Linked DNA regions of Homo sapiens: regions 2 and 3 are each linked to region 1. The links come from fine-mapping of genetic effects on gene expression. A gene starts in region 1. Each other region holds a variant in brackets. All regions are shown on one strand. Distances are between the middles of the regions. Region 1 holds the start of TMPRSS13 (transmembrane serine protease 13). Region 2 has its middle 11 kb from the start of IL10RA. Region 3 has its middle 28 kb from the start of IL10RA.

The links. PIP is the estimated chance that this variant, and not a neighbour inherited with it, causes the effect. A credible set is the group of variants that fine-mapping cannot tell apart.
Region 2: its variant is the best candidate, but not a certain one, in a credible set for the expression of TMPRSS13 in monocytes after R848 (Quach 2016, PIP 0.89).
Region 3: its variant is the best candidate, but not a certain one, in a credible set for the expression of TMPRSS13 in whole blood (TOPMed, PIP 0.71).

Annotation. Positions count from the first base shown.
Region 1 is chr11:117,925,743-117,933,924 of GRCh38, forward strand. TMPRSS13 (transmembrane serine protease 13) reads right to left here and starts at 3,660. Exons shown (of 13, transcript NM_001077263.3): 1 at 3,545-3,660. The coding sequence starts at 3,565. RefSeq lists enhancers at 6,343-6,882, 6,521-6,650, 6,883-7,421.
Region 2 is chr11:117,971,066-117,979,247 of GRCh38, forward strand. No RefSeq gene overlaps it. Among named protein-coding and RNA genes, the nearest start is that of IL10RA, 11 kb to the right of the region's middle. RefSeq lists a silencer at 1,753-2,167 and an enhancer at 6,264-6,433. The variant A/G (reference allele first, on the strand shown) is at 3,784.
Region 3 is chr11:117,954,749-117,962,930 of GRCh38, forward strand. No RefSeq gene overlaps it. Among named protein-coding and RNA genes, the nearest start is that of IL10RA, 28 kb to the right of the region's middle. The variant ATAGT/A (reference allele first, on the strand shown) is at 4,444.

The sequences.
Region 1 (8,182 bases):
TTGTTGTTGCTATACCAAGAGGAATCTGTTCTGCCAAAACAAGACACTTAAGCTAAGTGGCCATTGTTACATCAGTTGTCCTTCCCACCCAGCTCCCCAGCCCAGGGCCCAATACACACACTCCCGCACGCTTACGCTCACATCTGCCAAGTCTCAGGGGACAATGCAGGGGAAATCGAGGTGGCTGTGCCAAAGGAAGTCTGCTCCTCACCAATGACAACATGAAACAGAGGACAAGGTGAGGGCTGCACACCTGCAGGGGCACAGGGCAGGTACCAGGGTCCTTGGAGGACGAGGTGAAGGCTGCACACCTGCAGGGGCATAGGGCAGGTGCCAGGGTCCTTGGAGGACGAGGTGAGGGATGCACACCTGCAGAGGCATAGGGCAGGTGCCAGGGTCCTTGGAGGACGAGGTGAGGGCTACACACCTGCAGGGGCATAGGGCAGGTGCCAGGGTCCTTGGAGGACGAGGTGAGGGATGCACACCTGCAGAGGCATAGGGCAGGTGCCAGGGTCCTTGGAGGACGAGGTGAGGGCTACACACCTGCAGGGGCATAGGGCAGGTGCCAGGGTCCTTGGGGTGCCTGGGGCTGGGATGGGGCTGGGACACGGCATGGCAGAGTGACTTGACCCGCGGGTGAGCCATCTCAGGAACTGCCCAGCTCCTCTGGAAAGGGTGCCTTATCCTGGACCAGCGGTGGGCCCCCAGACGGTTCTCACCAATCCCTAGCACCTGTGGCCTTGGGCTAATTTGGAACCTGTTCCACTTGAAGAAGGCCCAGTATAAGAAAATCCACTCCACAAAGGAATGTTGCTTCATCAATGGGTCTAATTCAGTCTTTCTTTAATAAGCATTGCACTGCTCTGAGAATTAAAAATGAGAATTGAAAAAGCACAAAATACGCATTGTCAAGAACAAATCTGGTGTGGCGCACCTGTCATCCCCGTTCTATGTAATTCCAGACTGTCAGGGAGCCAGAAAGGAGCCTCAGGGGGGAATGTGTCCAACCCTCTTCTTTGGTGGGGAAGCTGAGGCACAGGTAGAAGAAGATGTTTGTCCAAATTTATAGGAGCCCACCCCAAATTCTAGGCAGTGATGATAAATTTCAACATTCTCTGACTCCATCTCTATCTATCTATCTCTATCTCTCTATGCCAGATGCTATTCTAAATGAGCCTTACTATGGGAAGGACACTATTTTGAGACTCCTTGAGGTAGGTATTATTAAATTAAGCTTAGCCTAAAGCTGCCTCCTTACATATTTTAAGTTCGGATCAAAAGGTTTCTCTGTACATAATGAACTATAACTCAACTGGACGTGTAAACAGACTGTAAACTACTCTTGTTAACAATCACCAATTTTGCACAATCAAAGGCAGCCAACTGTTCAAACAGTGTTCAAATAAGGCTATTTCTGTACCTCACTTCCTTTTTCCATACACTGCTTGCCTTTTTCTGTCCATAAATCCTCTCCGACCACGCAGCTGTGTGGGAATCTCTCTGAATCTATTCTCCTTCGGGGGACTGCTCCATTTGAGAATTGTTCTTTGCTCAATTAAACTCTGTTAAATTTAGTTTGTCCAACATTCTTCTTTTGAGAGTAGTATTATTATTCCATTTTACAGATGAAGAAACTAAGGTACAGAAAGGTGAAGTGGCTTGCCCAAAGCTGACGGGGAACATGGTCAGTTCTCTGTCCACCACGACATGCAACTTTCTTTTGAATATGAGAAACTGAGACCCTTCTCCACCTCTTTTCCAAGATCCCTCTGAAGATCCAGCAGCTGACAGAGGAGTGCCATCAGGCTCAAGCCCACTGGCCACCATCTTCCTCACGACATTTTGGAGTTGAGGGACAGAAATCACAATGCATCTCTCTGCAATAAAGCCCTCAAGGAGAAGGCACAAGCTCAGGTGACCAGCTTCTCCCAGACCACTCCTATTTAATCAAGGTTAAGAAACCTGCTGCAGATGGGAATACGAGCCCCAACTATAGGCTCACTCTCTCAGAGTTCCATCTTAAATAGGGGAGTGAAGTTAAGAACCTTAAATAAGAATGTAATGATTCCATTCTTCCATTCCAAGGTAAGTTTGGACAATCTTTTTTTCAGAATGAATATGGCACCTATCATAATATTTGACACTTAATTCATAGATTAATTGGGAGTTCCTCAAAGAAGTCTGTTCTCTGTCCTGTATCCCTCCAGCAGCCTTCATGTTGATCCCTGACTCTGAAGAGATGAGCTTCCTGGGAAGATATCGCCCCATCACCCTGTCTCAGGGATGGACTATCCATCTCCAGTGGGAGCATGGCCACCCTCCGGATAGCTCAGCCCTTCTCACTCTTGGGTTTAGGGACCATCTAGTTTAGGCTCCCAGCATATTGCCAAGGAGGATGCCCCATGGCTGTGACTAAGGGTTCACCTTCTGCATGCCCTTGTGTACCCCCCTTACTGCTCAACAGTAAGAGGCTCTGATAACCCCCCAAGGCCTAGGGCCAAGTGACTTTGGTGAGGTAGAGACATGAACGAAGGAGCCCAGAGCAGAGGGCAAGGGAGGCAGCCTGGGAAAGAAAAGTCAAGAGGGGGCTGGAAGAATGGTGGGAAAAAAATGATGGTAAAGTTTGCAGAAACACATTGGGGGTGCAGAATGGACCACAAGCCAACTATAAGCCAAAACATAGGATGAGCTGATCTTTCCCAAACCCAGTGCTAGCCCATTCTTCCCAGAGTCCCAGGCTCTACCATGTCGGTAAGGTACAGAGAATTTGGAGGGGGCAGAAAACAAGACCTAAAGGAGAAATGAGAGCACAAAAGGGATTTCCTGGAGGAAAAGAAAGTGGAGGCACAGCAGAACAAGATCTTTGGAAGCCTTCATGTGTGTATGACTGGCTTTCCCACAGAGGACAGGCCAGCTGCTTTCTCCTACCCCAAGAGCAGCAGAAGAAAGGAAGTTGAGTGGTAGCAGGACTTGTGGTTAAACATCAAGAAGCACTTCCCAAGCATGAAAGTTATTAAGTCCAAAAAGAAGTGACCAACGGAGGTTGAAACATCCCCTTGAAAATCTTGAATGCACCCAGAAAGTCACAGTTTTCTGGGAAGGTTTAGGAGTGTAGTGAGGGGTTTAGACAAGATGCCCCTGAATTGCAGTTAGAATGCTTTTGATTTTCCAACCAGCAAAAATGAGATTAAAGTAGATTAGCCTGGATTCCCAATCGGCAAAGTTGGTGCTGTAACACTATGGATGCCCGGCAGGAGTGCTCACAGACCACAGAGCAGGAAACCCACGACTCAGCCACATAGCCCTGGGGTGCTCACCAGCCAGACCCCAAATCCCAGCAGCTTCTCCTCCCAGGGGCTTTTTCTAGAACCACGTTAAAAGGAGACCAAGAGATCTTGATCGTAAGTAGCTTCAAACTAGAAGAGGCACAGCCAGTTTCCCCCAAACCTGAAACACAGAGGTAGCTGTCCCACCTGTCTCCCAGCCTCAGCCCTGCTTCCTCAGCGCTGGGAGAATCTGGCCCGAGGCCTGAGGTCACACTCACCCCGTGGCTGTCCCTCTCCATGGTCTCTGAGGGGAAGAGTCCTCCAGGCTTAGCTGATGTCGAGGAGAAGATCCATCTTGGTCCCTGGCTTCTCAGGCATGTAGGGTAAAGGAGTTGGAGGGCCAAGGGCCAGCCCCCACCAAATGGGGCGGGGAAGCCGGTTGGGACGTGTGAAGTAATCCCCAGTATAAACAACACAGAACTAGCCAGACCTGTTCCTCTGCCCCTCATCGAGGCCATCCCAGTTACTCAGCGAATACCAAATTCCAAATACCGGGAACCTGAAGCTGCCTTTACTCATGAAACTGCCCCCACAGAAGCAGAGGAGTGTTCTGAGCTACTTCTTCAGAGGGGCCCTGAGAGAAAGGGCAGAGCCTTGAGAGGATGGTCTTGGTCCTGTTGACCTGAGCCCCTGAAACAGATGCTCCAGAGCCTTCTGAGGGATGACCCTATCCCCACAGGGGACGTTCCAGGCCAGGGGCAGAGCCCCACCTATGGCAGGACAGTGGGAACCTTCATCTCCAAGGACCAGGTGTCCAAATCCCAAATCAGGGCACATGGTCTCTGGGCGCATGGTCTGGCAATTGCTTTCTCCTGAACTCTGTTTGTTTTTATGAAACTCTTAACAAAGAAATGAAAATCAAATGACCTTTAATTATGCACATCATGAATTGCCCTCTATTGAAAACAATAAAGTGCCAGAAGCAACACATCAAAGTCAATGAAATAAAACATAACTATCTGAATGGAAACTGTTCCAAGAAACATTGGGCTGACTCGTGATCCCAAACCTATACCCTATTCTGATCCTCAGAGTCAAAAGAAGTAAAGGAAGGGCTATTGCAAAAGGAGTCCTTAGCACCTCCGGCTAAGTTCCAGCTGAGCTGCTGCTGAGAACTGCAAAAAAAAAAAAAAGAAAAAGGAGTTCCTGTTGAGGTTTGGGAAGAACTTTCTTGAGCATTCAGAGGCACCAAGATTTTTAGAGTTTGAAAGAAGCTCATGGATCTTTAGTGGTTCACTCTTTTCATTTTACAGACTGCGAGACAGAGGGCCAGAGAGGCTAAGGAATGTGCTCAAGTCACACAGCAAACAACAGCAGCAGCAATAATCTTAAGATGCCAAGAATCCTGCGAAACACTTCACACGCATCCTTCACGTGTTCATTCAACAAATATGTATTGAGTGCCTGGCATTGCTTTAGGTGCTGGGGACACAGGAACAAAATAGGCAAAGCCTCCTGCCCTGTGGCTCTAGTATTTGCGGGTTGGGGGGAAAAAGCAGACAAAAATCAATAAATCAGTTACACAGCCTCCTAGAAAGTGAAAAGTGCCGTTCACAAAAACAAAGCAGCGAAAGGATCCAGAAGGTAGGGGAGGCAGAGTCCTGGCAGTTGGGAACAGGATGGTCAGAGAGGGCTCTCTGTGGTGACATATTTGAGCAAAAACTGAAAGGAAGTGACTACTATCGCCCCCCATTTACATTCAAGAAAACGGAAACTTCTAGCTCACAGTGGAAACTGTGCCCCAGCTTAGGGTGTCTTGAGGGAAATCTAACCCAGAGGCAAGAGGCTGGAGGAGAGAACTCTGGAGGGCCCAGGCAGGGACCCTAGAGTTCTCTCATCTTGGCTTATTGTGGGAGCCACTTCCCTGGCTTTCAAAGAGAGCAGAATTCAGCCACAGGCCACATCCCCTTCCTGCCCCATCCACCAGCCCACCATGACAAAGGGGCCCCTCCCATCCATCCTCCTGAGAAGATACCCACCTCCTGTCCTCAGCTGCTCCTCTTCCCTCTCTCCCAGGGAGGAGCCCAGCCCCTCTCTGGCTGCCACTGAGCCCTGGCACGCCCAGGCCAGATCCGAGGGCCTCCACTTCATCCCCCAGGCAGGCCACTGGTCTCCGAAGGGCACCCTCAGCCTCCTTCCCTGAAGGTCCCACCAACCTAGGGAAAGAGCTCAGGCTTGGGGGTCTGGGCGAGTTCGGGGGAATGAGAACCCTAACTCTGAGGGGAACTCGCAAGGCCTGACAGGTTCACCATCGGGAAAATGAGAACACATAGAACCAGAGGAAGTGCCTGGCACGGGGCACAGGGCACTGGGAAGGCTGGGAAGGAACATCAGTTTCACCTCTTGCTCTTTTCCTTGGTTTGCATCAGAGACACAAGTTGGCCTGTCCCAGAGTCCTCGCTGACAAAGCAGTCTGACCCGTGTGACATCCCCACCAAGGGCAGTTCAGTTCAGCAAGGATTGACTGCTCAGCACCAGGCCCACGGTGGCTGCTGGGGAGTGAGAGTGGTGGGCAAAGAACAGAAAGGCAGGGGCCCTGCCCTGGGAGAACACACAGTTGATGTGTTGGGGCGGGTGGCGGGGGGACACTGAGGAATGAAATTCCTAGCTGGTGGTTTTCCTATTTTCAGAGTGAAGGCGCTGCGGCAGCACAAGACCTGGATGCTTCCCCCACAGAGCTGGACTTAGAGGCCTGCACCGCTTTTGACTTCCCCACTGACCCTGGCCTGGCCCTTTCCTTCCCCCTCCTCCCGGCCTCCTTTGCTGTCCTCCTGACTGTACAATCCCAGGCTCTCTCTGACTCCCACCCTTTCCTTTGCCTCCTTCTCTCTGGCCTTGGTCCCTGGCTTTCTCCCTTCAGCTCCCTGGTTGCCTTCTGGAAAGACACCTGCCCACCTCTGGCTACTCCACACCCAGAGGCTATTGGCAGCACCTGGGACCCACCTTCTGCTCCCTCAACGCCCCAGGGAGAGTGTAGGCCAGCCATCAGGCCCATTTGTACCCTGGTCATTTCCTACCTGGGTCATTTCCATGTGGAGTGAAGGGAGTTTTACAGAAAAATGTCAGCCATGCAAACAAGCACACATCTCCTGGCAGCTGTCCAGGAGAGTGAGGTGTGAGAAAATCTCACTACTGTTTTGAGACTAAACTCCTAGCTCTCTGCTTCCATGGCTGTTCTAGCTACCACTACCCCAGTGCCTTGGGAACTCCTTCCTGAGGCTCCAGCCTGGGAAACAGAGCTCTGGGCCTTCTATTCCCAGCCTTGTTATCTTCCTTGGAGTTCCCACCTCGGGCCCATGTTCCTCCCTCCTGAGCCTATCAGCAGCTTCACCCCTGAATCACCTCCCAACTCCCTGCTTGGAGCCCTTGCCTACCCTTCCCCACTTTGCACCCCGCTTCTGAGCTTCTCCACCACTCTTGGCACAATAGGTGGGTTTCCCTCCAGGCCTGAGGGCAGCCAGGAAACCAACTACATACTTAAAGACTCAGTGTGGCAGAGGGGAGACACTGGGTCCACCCTCAAGGGGGTGAGTCACCAGGAGCCACCCCTGGGCCCAGCACACCTAACGCTCCTATGGTCTGTACTGCCCCACCCCCCAAGCCCAGCAGTCTTCCCAGCTGCAGCCCCAGGCAGGTCTCTTCCGCCCCCACTTAGCCTTCCAGGGCCGTCCTGGGTCCCTCCAGGCTGTGGTCCTAGCCGTGCCTCTCCCCACTCCAGGCCTGCAGAGGTTGATCGCCATTGAGTTCTGTGGACTAGAGGCTGGTTCTCTCTTCCTGCTTTTCCCTTGGGGCTGGACATCAGTGATCAAGTGAGGCACTTGCCCAGGCTGCACAATTTAAGAGCGTGCCCAAATAATCAAGATAAATCATGTTTTAATGAAATATTTTTAAAATCTGCATTAACGGGAAAAGTCCAAGGTGAATAAAATATCAGAATTTTAAGTAAAGACAGGATCAGCTTTCCATCTGGATTTTGTCTCCCCCTTTTATTACTCACATGTTAGCAGGGCCCCATTTCCCCTCGTGATTATTCCTTCTACTTTCTGCAGGATATTGTCCCAGCTGCTCAAAACATCCAGGCCAACCAAGAGCAAGGAAGGCCTCTTCCCAGGGGGTGAGCTCCCTCTCTGCACAGAGCAGACCTGAGCCCTAGAGAGCTGTTGTCTTCACTGTGAATTTCCACCCTGAGTTCCTTCTTTTTTGTGCCGTATTACTTCATTTTTGGTCTTCCATGAATCTGCATGGCTTACATGTTCTTTGTTGTGGCTGAACAGGAGTCCTCAGAATTAAGCAAACTGGTGCCTGCCTGACCATTTGTTGAACATGGCACTTGCTACCAATCTGTTCTAAGATTTGTTTTTTTAAATTAACAATGCATCAATAATAAGTTAACAATTAAATGAAGGCTGACAAATGTGCACACCTGTGTAACCATTATGACAATCAAAATCTAGAACATCCCCATCACCCCAAAAAGTTTCCTCCCACCTCTTGCAGTCAATTCTCCACCCCATCCCAGCCCCAGACAATCACTGATCTGCTTCCTGTCACTAGAGGTTAATTTTCCCTTTTCTGGAATCTCATCTAAATCTCCCCTAAGATTTAATGCTGAACCCTGAGCGCAGCCCAGCCGCGCCACTGCCTCAGGACTCACATCAGGTGCTAGGTCATCCAGATATGATAAGAGGAGGCCAGATCATGTGGAGAGATTTTTTTTTCAAGCCAAGAGAAAACAGCCCATGAGTCCATACCGAGTCCCTGGTCCCCAGCTAGCCTCTCAGCAGCTCTAAGGGAGGCTCTCAGGGGACTCTGCTGGTGGGGCAACTCTAAGGTTCCCTATTTCCAGCAGATACTGG
Region 2 (8,182 bases), 45 kb after region 1:
CCACCTGGAAGTCTCTTCCTTCCCTCTTTGAAGGGAAGGTTACCCCAACTCATGCAGATTTAAGGGTACTTCCTCCTGGAAGCTTTCTTGGCCTCCTTACCAGGTAAAACCCCAAATACAGGCTCTCATGGCACTTACCACAGTCGCAACTCTGCGTTTTATTTGAGTGACTATTTGATTCACATCCATCTCTCCTTCTAAACCGCAAGCTCCTGGGGGGCTCTCCTTTGCTCACCGTGTATTCCCAGCATCCTGCACACTGCCTTGCACTGAGGAAATAGCCAGTGACCCTGTGTCGAATAGGGAATGACTGAATGAATATAGAGATGAATGTTGAAACTGGAACACTCTCTGTGGTAGGATGAAAATGGCCCCCAAAAGATATCCAGACCTAATCCCTTGAACCTGTGAGTGTTACTTTATATGGGAACAGTGTCTTTGTATATTGGGTCTTGAGATGGGGAGGTTATCCTAGATGATCAAAGTGAGCCCTAAATGCAATTGCATTGGAGCTCTTAAGAAATTTTTGGTATAAAAAAGAGGCAGGGAAAGATTTCACTCTCACACACACACACACGCACACACGAAGGCTAGCCACCAGGAGCCAAAAGAGGCAAGGAACACATTCCTTCCTAGAAAATTCCAGCCCTGCCAGTACCTTGATTGCAGCCCAATGAAACTGATTTCAGACCCTCCAGAACCAGGAGAGAATTCATTCCGTCATCTTAAGCCACCCAGTGTGTGATAATTTGATATAGCCTTGGGAAACAAATACACCTGACCTCCAAAACCCTCCTCACCCTGACCCCCAAAACCCTCCTGCCTTCTCCGTGTCTAAGCACGTCAGATTTATGGGGGATGGAATAATCTAGAATAATCTGAAATAATTTTAAAAGGAAAAAAGAAAAGGGGATCAAGAAGAAAGAGAGGAGAGGGTGAGTGTAAGGAGGGCTAAAGCCCGAGTGTGCAGGGGGATCATAATTTACTCAGAAGCTGCAGGAAGAAGAGCCCTATGTCCATGCCTCTCTCGACTCTCCTCCAGGGAATGTTCTCCACAAGTGGGGGAGGCTGAGAGTTCTCGAGTTCCCTGTCTGTCTCTCTGTCTGTCAGCCAGTAGCCATGAGCCCCATGAAGGAGCCATCCCTCACTTAGGTGGGCCTCACTCACTGGGCGCCAACCCCTCCCACACCGGCCGGGCACGCCCTTACCTGGAGGCCTGGCACTTGCTGTTCCCTTTGCCCACAACACCCTTCGTTCAGATATCCACACGGTTCATTCCTCACATCCCTTGGGTCCTCATTCTAATGTCACCTACTGGGGGAGGCCTGCTGCCCACTCTATTTAAAATGGAGGTGGAGGCCAGGCGCAGTGGCTCACGCCTGTAATCTCAACATTTTGGGAGGCTGAGGCAGGTGGATCGCTTGAGCTCAGGAGTTCAAGACCAGTTCGGGCAACATAGGGAGACCCTGTCTCTATAAAAACCTAAAGAAAAAAAGGAAAAAAAATGGAGGTGGGGGAGGGAAAAGGAAAAAAGGAAAACAAAAAGGCAGCCCTCCCTCCCTACTCCCTAAACCCCTTTCTTACTTTATTGTTCTCGGTGGCGCGTATCACTGTCTGACATGCTACACATTTCTCTCATGTATTGACTCTTGGTGTCCGTCTCCTCCTGCTGCAATGAACACTCCATGTGGCAGGAGTTTTGTTTGCTTTGTCTGCCTCGAATGAAGCCTGGTATGTGGCAGGAAATCAACAGCTATTGAAGAATAAACACTCTCAGAGGGCATTTCTCCAGGAAGATGGAGGCGCTGGGGTGAGCAGATGGGAGCGGGATGATAAAGTCTCTGCTTCAGAAGCCACCAGCCCAGCCACGTCTTCTGCAGATCCTCTGTGCCAAATGCAAACCCTGTCAAGGCATTTCTTACACTTTCTAGTAATTTTCATTCCCACAGACCCCACCCCTGGCTGCCTTGGGCTGTGAGCCTCCCACAGGGGGAATTGGCAGCACCCAAACACCTGCCAGTAGTCCCCAAAGTTGGTTCTTTCCCTGGCAGCCTTCCAACTGGACCTACTGCTGGAATTGTCCCACTTACTGCTTTTTGTCTGTGGCTGGTGTGCGTGGGGCTGGCAGGAGCAGTCAACAGGAATAGTTAGAGTCAGACCTGGGCTTACAAGCCAGCTGTACCACTTATGGAGTTACCTTGGGAAAAGCATATAACCTTTCTAAGACTCAGTTTCCTCCTCTGTAAAGTGGGAAGAGAAGACCTATCTCACATAGAATCAGAGGAAGTACATAGTAGCAAATTGCCCAGCACAACAATAAACCTTAGATTTCCTTTCCCCCACTCTTTCTAACTAAACATCCTCCAAGACAAACATAGTATCCTTTCTGTTTTTGTCCCCAGGTGCTTAGCACAGTGCCTGACACAGGGACTACTCAATGAATGTTTGCAGATTTGAGCTACTGACCCAAGAAGAAGGTGTGGCAGTTATGAACTTTGTCACCAAATTGGGATCTCAGAAGAACTGTGCAACTGACTTATGCTTTAGTATGTGGTGACCACAGTTGGCCTAGGGAGAAGAATTGAGTGGAGAGGGGGAAGTAATCTTGAGTCTGGGGCTTAAGAAAGTGGTGTAATAGCAAGAGGCTGTGACCAACCGCCATAAGTATCTCGCTTTGTGGGTGGACAGGAGGCCTCTCCTGGGACCAGTGGATGGGTGAGCACCCAGTAATCACAAGGAAACCCTTCTGTTAATGTATACGTATAGACACACGTAGTGACTGCTTACCAGAATTTCATGAATCTCAGCATCTATTTACTTCAGCTTTCCAACATTAGGCTGAGAATTTATTTCTACAATGTGCAACAATAAACATGAGTCACCTCTTTGAAACTTCATACTGTGCACCAAGTGTTGATCAAAACTGTGTATATTTCTGAATACGTATTTACTTAAATAACTTGTATGGGTTTTGAACACATTTATTAATTAAAGTTAAAAAAAATTTTTTTTGAGACAGAGTTTCACTCGTTGCCCAGGCTGGAGTGCAATGGCGCAATCTCAGCTCACTACAATCTCCGCCTCCTGGGTTCAAGCAATTCTCCTGCCTCAGCCTCTTAAGTAGCTGCGATTACAGGCATGTGCCACCATGCCCAGCTAATTTTTTTTTTTTTTGTAATTAGTAGATACGGGGTTTCACGATGTTGGTCAGGCTGGTCTTGAACTCCTGACCTCATATGATCCACCCGCCTTGGCCTCCCAAAGTGGGATCACAGGTGTGAGCCACCGCACCTGGCTAGTTTAAAATTTTTAAAAATGTGAAGATGACCTCACCATATACAAGAACTCAAAGAATGCTCAGAAGAAATGCTAATTTTTTTCATGGTCCTGGTAATTTTCCACTGGAATTTTGGGGTGTCCTGAAAAGAGAGGCTGGGGTAGGACAGAGGGACAGGTTAGTGAAGACAGAAAGGGGGTTGGCTGCGGACTATCAGAGATACCAGCAGGACCTCCCCCACCAATATCACCCAAATGTTGGCCTGTTTAAAAGAGTTTGGAAAAGGAGGTGAGAAGAACATCACCTGTCTTGTTCTTCTGTCCCAAAAGGTCAGATCGCCACAGAATGAATGTGGGGGCGAGGTATGAACCCGCTATGCTCTTGAGATAGCTCTTCCTCTCTGACTTTCGTTTTCTTATAAATTATAAAACTTCACAACTCCTTAGGACTGCAGAGCTTCTCTTTTCATGCCCCACTCCCACACATCCTCTGCTGGGCACTTGTAC[A/G]TGCTCACCATTTGTCATCCCTGGCTGGCCTCCAGTTACCATTTCTTTTCTTTTCTTTTTTTTTTTTTTGAGACGGAGTCTCGCTCTGTCACCCAGGCTGGAGTGCAGTGGAGCGATCTCCGCTCACTGCAAGCTCTGCCTCCCGGGTTCACACCATTCTCCTTCCTCAGCCTCCCGAATAACTGGGACTACAGGTGCCCACCACCACGCCCGGCTAATTTTTTGTATTTTTAGTAGAGACGGGGTTTCATTGTGTTAGCCAGGATGGTCTTGATCTCCTGACCTCGTGCTCCACCTGCCTCAGCCTCCCAAAGTGCTGGGATTACAGGCGTGAGCCAGGCACCTGGCCACCATTTCTATTTTTTTTTTTTTTTTTTTTGAGACAGAGAGTCTCGCTCTGTCGCCCAGGCTGGAGTGCAGTGGCGCGATCTCAGCTCACTGCAAGCTCCGCCTCCCGGGTTCACGCCATTCTCCTGCCTCAGCCTCCCAAATAGCTGAGACTACAGGTGCACGCCACCACGCCTAGCTAATTATTTTTTTTTGTATTTTTGGTAGAGATGGGATTTCACTATATTAGCCAGGATGGTCTCCATCTCCTGACCTCGTGATTTGCCTGCCTCGGTCTCCCAAAGTGCTGGGGTTACAGGCGTGAGCCACCACGCCCAGCCCACCATTTCTTACATTTGTCATTAATTATGTGAAAGAGGAAAGACTGTACTTCCAGTGTGTCCTGGGAAGAGTGGTGGAATGGAAACATGTAGGTAGATGACAGGAGCCCCCTGAAAGGATTCTAGGGTTCCATGGGGGGCAGGGAGACCCCCTGGAGCCTGGGGGACAGGGAGAAGAGGCTTCCCACTGTGAGCTGCTCAAGACATGTTTGGCCCAGCAGTGAACAGAAAGGAAACCCAATTTATAGGAAAAATGACAGCAGTACTAATATCCACAAGTATATAACACTTTAGAGTTTACAGAACACTTTAGATCTAAGCTGTTTCTTCTCATATCATAATGAAGTTACCTATTGAAGTCTAAACACCCTAAAAGCGCATGAGTCTGATAAGGCCAGTGTCTTACTAATTTTTGGATCCTACCATGCCTAGGCAAGTGTACTTAACAAATGTTTGCTTGCATTCATCCTCTCAACAACCCTGACAGGTTGGAAGAAGTGGTATTATCCTCGTTTTTTAGCTAAGAAATCCGAGACCTGGGGAATTCATGACTTACCCAAAGTCACGGATGGCAACTGACAGACCTGGGGCTTGAACCTCAGGCTTAGGTCTTCCCATTGAGCACTCGGGCTGCTGCCAGAGACAGGGGAGAATATAGAGCTTTAAATCCTTGAAGCAAAGGAGCTGTAATTCAAGGATTTACAAGACATTTCTGCATGACAGAGGAGTGATTAGGATTTGTCTTCACATGGGAGTCTCCCTGTATTGGGTGAACCTTCTTAGTCTTGTCAATATAAAGTACATGCATACCCATTGTTCTGGAAGACATCCTAGACATCTGTGATGGGTCCGAGACAGAGTCCTCAGACTGAAGTGTTACTGGTTTCATTTAGCAATGTCAGTGGAGTATCTCCTTAGCAGAACCATGCCCCTGAGGAATTACAGAATTTGTTTCCCAAAGTCTCAATTTAGGCTGTCCCATGGCTGAAAATCATTATCCTTTGTCCAGTCATTGTTCACTGCAGGGCAGGAGCCCAGACAACCGCAGGAAGAGCAGGCAGACCAAGTCTCTTCCCTTCCGGGCAGGAATGACCGAGGTAAGGCCCTGGATTGGGCCTGATTTGTCATTATCTGGGCCACACGGCTGCTGGCCCACCTGCAGGGTTATTTAAGGCCAAGGCAGGCTTAAGGCAACTAGCCCTATGTGAGCCATTGGAGCCAGGTTGTACCTTCAGGATAGGTCTAGGAATTTCTCTTGAAAGATATTGATGTTCTTGCTGTGAATCATCTTGAGGCAAAAAGTTAAAAACAAAACAAAACAAGGTGGTCTTTGGGCAGGAAGAGGAAGGCCTCTGCTCTCTTTATGGGCAAGGAGGGTGTTCAGAGAGGCCTAGAGACTTCCAAAGGCAAGAAGTTCACTGGCCTCTCCCTGCCACCAACATTGCCAGAAGCTTAAGGAGGGTTTGCAAAATGCAGCTGAACTGGTGGGTGCTCTGAAACTACTGCTTTGAGCAGTTGTAACAGACTATCTCTTTGGTACTTTTGTTATTTGAGAGCTTCCAATAGCATTTTTTCAAAGATGCTGGGCCTGTGTCCGTACTTCAAACAAACAGCTGCAGCTCAGAGGCCACCACCGTGAGACGCTCAGAGGTGAGGTGCAAGCCCTCTAGGATGGCTCTGGGATTGGAAACCCAAGAGCAGATGGACTTCCTGCATTTGTGGGATGGGAGTTCAAACTGTTGTTATTTTAGAATTAAGGGGAAATGACACCCTTAAAAACTGGAGAAGTCAAGGCCATCTGGGCTGCAGAAGGAAGACACGACTGTGTCTTGAAATGACACGAGATATTTCTGTCAATGTTCTGTTCTTCACTTCTTGCATCCCAAGTTCACAAAGCAATGACAATGGACTAAGTTCATGGACCAGGTCCACAGCCTTCCTGACGAGGTGATTTTCTTAAAATAATTCTGGGGGAGGGAGGTGTCCCAAGTACAACCAAAGGCCCAGTTGTCCCAAGATGGTGTGGTGGGCCTCAGCACAACATACAACCCAGAGTGAGGCCAAACACATCCAGGCCATGAAAGAAAGGGGCTAGATCCCTCTAGTCAGCGTGCTTTTTGCTGAATGTTTCTACAGACCTCACTCCCTCTTGTGTCCGGAATTGGTGGGTTCTTGGTCTCACTGACTTCAAGAATGAAGCTGCGGACCCTCGCGGTGAGTGTTACAGCTTTTAAGGTGGCGCGTCTGGAGTCTGTCCCTTTTGATGCTCAGATGTGTTCGGAGTTTCTTCCTTCTGATGGGTTCGTGGTCTCGCTGGCTCAGGAGTGAAGCTGCAGAGCTTTGCGGAGAGTGTTACAGCTCTTAAGGCAGCGCATCTGGAGTTGTTCGTTCCTCCTGGTGGGCTTGTGGTCTCACTGGGCTCAGGAGTGAAGCTGCAGATCTTCGCGGTGTTACAGCTCATAAAAGCAGCGCGGACCCAAAGAGTCAGCAGTAGCAAGACTTATTGCAAAGAGCGAAAGAACAAAGCTTCCACAGGGTGGAAGGGGACCCGAGCGGGTTGCCAACGCTGGCTCGGGCAGCCTGCTTTTATTCTCTTATCTGGCCCCACCCACATCCTGCTGATGGGTAGAGCCAAGTGGCCTGTTTTGACAGGGTGCTGATTGGTAAATTTACAATCCCTGAGCTAGATACAAATGTTCTTCACGTCCCCATCAGATTAGTTAGATACAGAGTATGGACACAAAGGTTCTCCAAGGCCCCACCAGAGCAGCTAGATACAGAGTGTCGATTGGTGCACTCACAAACCTTGAGCTAAACACAGGGGTGCTGATTGGTGTGTTTACAAACCTTGAGCTAAACATAAAGACTCTCCGCGTCCCCACCAGACTCAGGAGCCCAGCTGGCTTCACCTAATGGATCCCGCACCGGGGCTTCAGGTGGAGCTGCCTGCCAGTCCTGCGCCGTGCGCTCGCATTCCTCAGCCCTTGGGTGGTCGATGGGACTGGGCGCCTTGGAGCAGGGGGTGGTGCTCCACGGGGAGGCTCGGGCCTCAGAGGAGCCCATGGAGTGGGTGGGTGGCTCAGGCATGGCGGGCTGCAGGTCCCGAGCCCTGCCCCGCGGGAAGGCAGCTAAGGCCCGGCAAGAAATCGAGCACAGCGCCGGTGGGCCGGCACTGCTGGGGGACCCAGTACACCCTCCGCAGCCACTGGCCCGGGTGCTAAGTCCCTCATTGCCCGGGGCCAGCAGGGCTGGCTGGCTGTTCCGAGTGCGGGGCCCGCCAAGCCCACGCCCACCCGGAACTCCAGCTGGCCCGCAAGCGCCGCACGCAGCCCCGGTTGCCGCTGGAGCCTCTCCCTCCACACCTCCCTGCAAGCTGAGGGAGTGGGCTCCAGCCTTGGCCAACCCAGAAAGGGGCTCCCACAGTGCAGTGGGGGGGCTGAAGGGCTCCTCAAATGCCGCCAAAGTGGGAGCCCAGGCAGGGGAGGTGCCGAGAGCAAGCGAGGGCTCTGAGGACTGCCAGCAGGCTGTCACCTCTCACTCTCACTTGAGAAGCCATTATCAGTTACCAGAACACTTTGTGTCTGGCTTTACAACAGCCCAGATTCCAATCTTGCCAACAGCTAATAGAGCCAAAGGGACCGGTTCCAGGGTGCACGACTGGTAGTGACCAAGCTGGGGCTAGAAGTAGGTCTGTTGGTTTTGAGGTAACCAGGCTCCTCCCACCTAAGGCA
Region 3 (8,182 bases), 29 kb after region 1:
TACTAAAAATACAAAAATTAGCCAGGTGTGGTGGCATGCGCCTATAATTCCAGCTTCTCAGGAGGCTGAGGCACAAAAATCGCTTGAACTTGGGAGGTGGAGCTTGCAGTGAGCTGAGATAGCGCCACTGCACTCCAGCCTGACTAATGGAGTAAGACTCTGTCAAAACAAAATTAAAACACAAATAAGACCCAGAGAAGAATTATGCAGACAGTAAAAGTGGTTGTGTGGTACATACATTTGTCAGGAGTCACCAAATTATACATTTAGGATCTGTGGATTTTACTGTATGTAATTGTGTCACAATTTTTTTAATTACTGTGGTATAGAATGTGGTCAAAAGCCTGTATTTTGAACTCAAATGGATCTGGGTTGGAAATACCAGCTCTACCAATTCCTAAACAAATTGTTTAACCTGTCTAAGCCTCAACTTTCTGCCTGTAAAGTAAGGATAATGATAGTATCTACTTCATATTATACTTGTGAGGATTAAGTAAGATAATTACTAAAAAATACATTAATACAATGTTCAACTTTTAGTTTTCAATAAATACGAGCCACCCTTTGATAATATAGAAAAATACAATGACAGAATATAAAATATAAAAGGCAAATTCAAAATTATACTTCTGGCATGAATAAAACTGTATTTTTAAAAAACAGCTTAATCTATGTCTAAAACAAAGACAAGGAGAAAATACATCAATATACTAGCAGCAGAACATGTCTATAATTTCAGCTACTTGGGAGGCTGAGGCAGGAGGATCACTTGAGCTCAGGAGTTCAAGTCCAGCCTGGGAAACATAGAGAGACCCTATCTCAAAAAACAACAAACAAAAACTAGCAGCAGTGGTTATGTCATGGGACTATGAATGATTTATTTTTCCTTCTTGTAAACTCTCTGCACTTCCAAATTTTATTTAATAAAGTGCACCCTTTTTAAATGAAGAAAAGCGTATTTTATTTTAAATAAGAAATCATTGCAAAATCCCATTGTTTAGAAGATGGGAGTGCTTCCAAATGCTAGGGTTTGTTAGTGTTGCCTATCCCTAGAGTACTTAAAAGGGGATGAACCTTCAAAGTGGGAGAGTCAAGGAGCCAGCTGTAGGGAACCAGAGTGTGCAAAATCCAAGGAATGGGGCACAGACAAAGCTGCCATTGAACACAAGAGAATTCCAAATAATCGATGAGTGACTGAGTGCAATTTGTACGAAGCTTAACAAACTCCAAGTGGGAAAAATGCAAAGAGAAACACCCCTTGGCACATCACAGTAAAACTGCTGAAGATAAAGTCAAATATAAAATCTTTAAAAAAAAGCCAGGAAGAAAAAGATAAATAATCTTAAAAGAACAAAAATAAGATGACTGACTTTTTGTTATGGGTTGAACTGTGTATCTCCCACCCCCTACCAAATTCATATGTTGAAATCCTAACCCCCGTACCTCAGAATGTGGCTATATTTGGAGACTGTGTCTTGTCAGAGGTAATTAAGTTAAAATGAGGTCATTAAAGTGGGCCCTAATTCAGTATGACTAGTGTCCCTATAAGAAGAGGAGATTTGGACCCAAACTTGCACAGAGGGAAGATCGTGTGAAGACGGAGGGAGAAGATGGTCATCTATAGCCAAAGAGAGAAGTCACAGAAGAAACCAACCCTGCCAACACCTTGACCTTGGACTTTAGAACTATGAGAAAATAAATTTCTGTTGTTTAAGCCAAAGGCCCAAGACTGTTCCTCTAGAGAGGCCCAAGTGGCACTTTGTTACAGAAGCCCTAGAAACTTAATATACGTTTTAACAGAAACAATAGGAGCCAGCAGACAGTGGAATGATATCTTTAAAGTGCTGACAGACATATGTAACAGATCCACAGCCAATATCATACTGAATGGGAAACAAGTGAAAGCCTTTCTTCTAAGATCTGGAACATGACAAGGAAGCCCACTTTTACCACTATTATTTAACATACTACTGGAAGTCCTAGCTAGAGCAATAAGACAAGAGAAAGAAACAAAGGGCATCCAAATTGGAAAGAATGAAGTCAAATTATCCTTGTTTTCAGATAATATGATCTTTTATTTGGAAAAACCTAAAGACTCCACCAAAACTATTAGAATGGATAAATAAATTCAGTAAAGTTGCAGGATACAAAATCAACATACAAAAATCAGTAGCATTTCTATATGCCAAAGGTAAGCAACCTGAAAAAGAAACCAAGAAAGTAATCCCATTTACAATAGCTACAAATAAAATAAAATACCTAGGAATTAACTTAAAGAAGTGAAAGTTCTCTATAATGAAAACTATAAAACACTGATGCAAAAAATTGAAGAGGACACCAAAAAAAAGCGGGGGGGAAAGATAGTGTATGTTCATGGATTGGAAACATCAGTATTGTTAAAATGTCCATAGTACCCAAAGCAATCTACAGATTAAATGCAATCTCTATCAAAATACCTATGACATTCTTCACAGAAATGGAAAAAATAATCCTAAAATTTATATGGAACCACAAAAGACCTGGAATAGCGAAAGCTATCCTGAGCAAAAAGAATAAAACTGGAGGAATCACATTACCAGACTTCAAGTTATACTACAGAACTATAATAACCAAAACAGCATGGTACTGGCATAAAAGCAGACACATAAACCAATGGAACAGAATAGAGAAGACAGAAAAAAGAATCAATACATATAGAGAACTCATTTTCAAAGAAGATGTCAAGAATGTATGTATTAGCCAGGGTTCTCTAGAGGAACAGAACTAACAGGATAGATGTATATATGAAGGGGAGTTGATTAAGGAGCATAGACACACATGATCACAAGGTGAAGTCCCACAGTAGGCCGTCTGCAAGCTGAGGAGCAAGAAAGACAGTCTGAGTCCCAAAACCTCAAAAGTAGGGAAGCCAATGGTGCAGTCTAGTCTGTGGCCAAAGGTCCGAGAGCCCCTGGCAAACCAATGGTGTGAGTCCAAGAGTCCAAAATCTGAATAACCTGAAGTCTGATGGTCGAGGGCAGGAAGCATCCAGCAAGGGAGAAAGATGGAAACTGGAAGACTCAGCAAGTCTGCTCTTGCATCTTCTCCTGCCTGCTTTATTCCAGCCACACTGGCTGTTGATTAGACGGTACCCACCCAGACTGAGGGTGGGTCTGCCTCTCCCAGTCCACTAACTCAAATGTTAACCTCCTTTGGCAACATGCTCACAGACACACCCAGGAACAATACTTCACATCCTTCAATCCAATGAAGTGGATACTCAGTATTAACCATCACAATATATATTGGGGAATGGACAGTCTCTTCAATAAATGGTGCTGGAAAAACTGGATATTCATATGCAGAAGAATGAAACTAGATGCCTATCTCTTGCCATACACAAACATCAAATCAAAATGGATTAAAAACTTAAATCTAAGACCTCAAACTATGACACTACTACAAGAAAACATTGGGGAAACTCTCCAGGACATTCGAGTAGGCAAAGGTATCTTGAGTAATACCCTGCAAGCACAGACAACCAAAGCAAAATTGGACAAATGGGATCAAATCAAGTTAGAAAGCTTCTGCACAGCAAAGAAAACAATCAACAAAGTGAAGTGACAACCAATAGCATGGAAGAAAATGTTTGCAAAGTACCCATCTGATAAGGGATTAATAACCAGAATACATCAGGAGCTCAAACAACTCTGTAAGAAAAAATCTAATAATCCAATGTAACAACGGGCAAAAGTTCTGAATAGACATTTCTCAAAAGAAGACATACAAATGGAAAACAGGTATATGAGAAGGTGCTCAACATCATTGTTCATCAGAGAAATGCAAATCAGAACTACAGTGGGATATCATCTCACTCCAGTTAAAATGACTTTTATCCAAAAGACAGGCAACAACAAATGCTGGCAAGGGTGTGGAGAAAGGAAACCTTTGTGCACTGTTGATATTGGACAACACTGTTGGTGTTGGAAAACAGTTTAGAGGTGCCTCAAAAAACTAAAAATAGAGTTGCCATGCAATTCAGCAATCTCACTGCTGGGTACATACTCAACCGAAGGGAAATCAGTATTTTAAAGAGATATCTGCAGTCCCATGTTTACTGTAGCACTATTCACAATAGTCAAGATTTGGAGGCAACCTGAGTGTTCACCAGCAGATGAATGGGTAAAGAAAATATGGTGCATATACACAACGGGGTCCTATTCAGCCATAAAAAAGAATGTGATCCTATTATCTACAACAACATAGATAGGACTAGAGGTCATTAAGTGAAATAAGCCATGCACAAAAAAGACAAACTTTGCATGTTTTCACTTACTTGTGGGAGCCAAAAATTAAAACAATTGAACTCATGAAGATAAGAGTAGAAGGATGTTTACCAGAGGCTGGGAAAGATAGTAAGGGTGGAGTTGGGAAGGAGTGCAGATGGTTAATGGGTACAAAAAA[ATAGT/A]TAGAGAGAATGAATAAGACCTAGTATTTGCTATCACAACAGGGTGACTATAGTCAATAATAATTTAATTGTACATTTTAAAATAACTAAAAGTGTATGATTGGATTTTTTGTAACACAAAGGATAATGCTCGAGGTGATGAATACACCATTTACCCCGATGTGATTATTACACATTGCATGCTATATCAAAATATCTCAGACCCCATAAATATATGCACCTATTATGTACCCATAAAAAATAAAAATAAAAATAAATAAAGTGCTAATGGAAAATAACTTCCAACCTAGAAGTCTATAATCAGCAAAAATATATTTCAAAAATGAAAGTAAGGACTTCCTCTTCTGGCCAAGATGAAGTTACAGGAACTGCATTTATCCTCCCACCAGAAACATGCCCTCCCCAAATGGACAAAATGTATGAAACAATAGTTTTTGAGACTTTGAACATCAGGCAAAAAAAAGTCAGGGACCCTTAGAGACAGAAAACAAATAAGTAGAGCCATATGATTGCCCCCAACGAATTGCCTTGAGAGAATTTCCAGGCCATAGCATGGGTGGGGGTGGAGGTCAGTGGGGGAACTCAACCCCTATGTGGGTGGGGTTAATAGGACAGAATACCAGAGGAGAGAGATGAACAGAAAGGGAACTTCAGATATCTAAAGAGGGTTTCCTTCAAGTGTTCAGCAGAATACTGATGATTGTACTCATAAGAAAAAACTATCTGAGGCCAGGCAAAGAAGCTTCTGAAAGAATGAGAGAGAACAGTACCTGGTATGCAAACAGAATTGAGAATAGTGCCTGTTCCCACTGTACAGACTAGAGAAACTTACAATTCACAGGGAATTAGGTGGAGGATTCAGGATGATCTTGCCTCAGTAGGGGGAAGTAACTAGCCCTAGGCTAAACAGTACTTTAAATTTACCTAACAAATCACAAAAGCAAGACATAAAGGATCAAACTGTTTCCAAGATACTTAGCTGCATCCCAAAACATAGTTCAAGAATAATTACAGGAATACCACAATATCAAGTACCCAACAAGGTAAAATTTACAATGTTTAACATATATCCACAGATTACCAGGCATACAAAGAAAGAGGAAAACAAGACCCATAATGACAAAATAATCAATCAATTGAAACCAACCCAGAACTGACACAGATATTAGAATTAGCAGAGAAGGATGTTAAAACAGCTATTATAACTGTATTTCATATGTTCAAAAAGCTAAGTACAGACATGGAAGAATATTTTTAAAGATGTAATTCTAATTTACAGATGAAAACTACAATGCCAGAAATGAAAAATATACCAGATTGGATTAAGAGCAGAGTAGACATTGCAGAAGTTAAGTGAGCTTGAAATCTTAGCAATAGAAACTGCTCAGCAGTTCAGAAAATGAAACACAGGGGAAAAAATCATCAAAAATGAAAAGGAAAAAGAAAATAGTGTCAGTGAGCTGTGAGTCAACTTCGAGTAGCCTAATATTGGATTCCCTAAAAGAGTCCCTAAAGCAAATGAGAGAGGAAACAGAAAAATATGAAAGGATAAGAGCCAAAAAGTTTTCAAACTTAATGAAAACTGTAAACCCACAGGTCCAAGAAACCAACCAAACAAACAAACAAATAAGCAAACAATAAAACAAACCCCAAAGCACAAAAATATGCAGAAAACTATAGTGAGGCAGATTATAATCAATTTACTAAAAACCAATGTTAAAGAGAAAATCTTAAAAGCAGCTAGAGAAAGACATGTTACATACAGAGGAAGAATTAAGATACGGATTTCTCATCAGAAACAATGGAAGCAAGAAGACTGGAACAACATCTTCAAAGCACTTGAAGGAGAAAACAGTCCATCTAGAATTCCATGCCCGTCAAAAACATCTCTCAAAAATAAAGACATCTTCAGACATAAAAAAGCTGAGAGAAGGCCGAGGCGGGCGGATCATGAGGTCAGGAGATCCAGACCATCCTGGCTAACACGGTGAAACCCCGTCTCTACTGAAAATACAAAAAATTAGCCGGGCGTGGTGGCGGGTGCCTGTAGTCCCAGCTACTCAGGAGGCTGAGGCAGGAGAATGGCGTGAACCCGGGAGGCGGAGCTTGCAGTGAGCCGAGATCGCACCACTGCACTCCAGCCTGGGTGGCAGAGCCAGACTCCGTCTCAAAAAAAAAAAAAAAAAAAAAAAAGGCTGAGAGAATTTCCACCAGCGGAACCACACCATAAAAAAAGTAAAAGGAAATTCTTCAGGCAGAAGGAAAAGAATACCAGATGGAAACCTGGGGTGACACAAATAAATAAAGAATACTGGAAATGGTAGTGACTACATAGGTAAATATATGAATTTTTAAAAATTATTTAAATCTCTTTCAAAGATAAGGGACTGTTAAACCAAAAACAGTTACAACGTATTGTGGGGTTTAGAATATTTGTAATAGCAAAATGCATGATAAAAACAGCACAAAGGCTAAAAAGGATAAAAATGAAAGTATGCTATTGTAGAATTCTTCTACTAGGCATAAAGGACTATAATATCAGTTGAAGTAGGCTGTGATAACTTAAAGATGTATGCCATAAACCCAAAAGCAACCATTAAAAAAGATCCCCAACAGCCAAGAGTTATAGCTAATAAGCCAACAAAAGAGATTTTAAAATACTCCAAAGAAGGCAGAAAAAATGGGAAAGGAAGACAGAACAGATGAGACAAAGAGAAAAGAAATAGCAAGACGATAGACCTAAACCCAACCCAAAAAGCAAGATGCAACTCTATGCTGCCAACAGGAAATTAGCAACAAGGACACCGTGGCTCATGCCTGTAATTCCAGCACTTTGGGGGGCCGAGGTGGGCGGGTCTTCTGAGGTCAGGAGTTTGAGAGCAGCCTGGCCAACATGGTGAAACCCTGTCTCTACTAAATACACAAAAATTAGCCAGGCTTGGTGGCCCTGGCCTGCGCCTATAGTACCAGCTTCTTGGGAGGTTGAGGCGGGAGAATCACTTGAATCCAGAAGGCGGAGGTTGTAGTGAGCCAAGATGGCGCCACTGTGCTCCAGCCTGGGCGACAGAGTGAGACTCCACCGAAAGAAAGAGAGAAAGAGAGAGAGAGAGAAAGGAAGGAAGGGTGGAAGGAAGGAAGGAAGGAAGGAAAGAAGGAAGGAAGGAAGGAAAATATTTATTTTAAATATAAAGGTACTACATGTTAAAAGTAAAAGGATAGGATAGTGTAAACCACACTAACACTAGTCAAGAGAAAACTGGAGTTACTGTGTTACTATCAGACAAGGTAGGTTTTAGAGCAAAGGATATTATCAGAGCTAGAGAAGGTCATTTTATAGTTATAAAGGGATCAATTAATCAAGAGGACACAATTCTAAAGTGTTTATGCACCTTTAAAATATAGACAGTAAAAGTTGCTAGAGTTGCAAGGACAAACAGACAAATTGACAATTACTGTCAGAGATTTCAATATACTTCTCTCAATAAGTGGTAGAATAAGTAGAAAATAAATGAGAACATAGTACATTTGAATAGTACTATCAATCAATTTGACTGGATTGACATTTATAGAACATTCCATCTAACAACGGCAGAATACACCATCTTTTCAAGTATACACAAAGCATTTACCAAGACTGACCATATTCTGGGTCATAAAATAAATCTAAATAAGTTCCGAAGGATTTAAGTCATACAAAATATGTTCTCTGACCACAGTGGAATTAAATTAGAAATT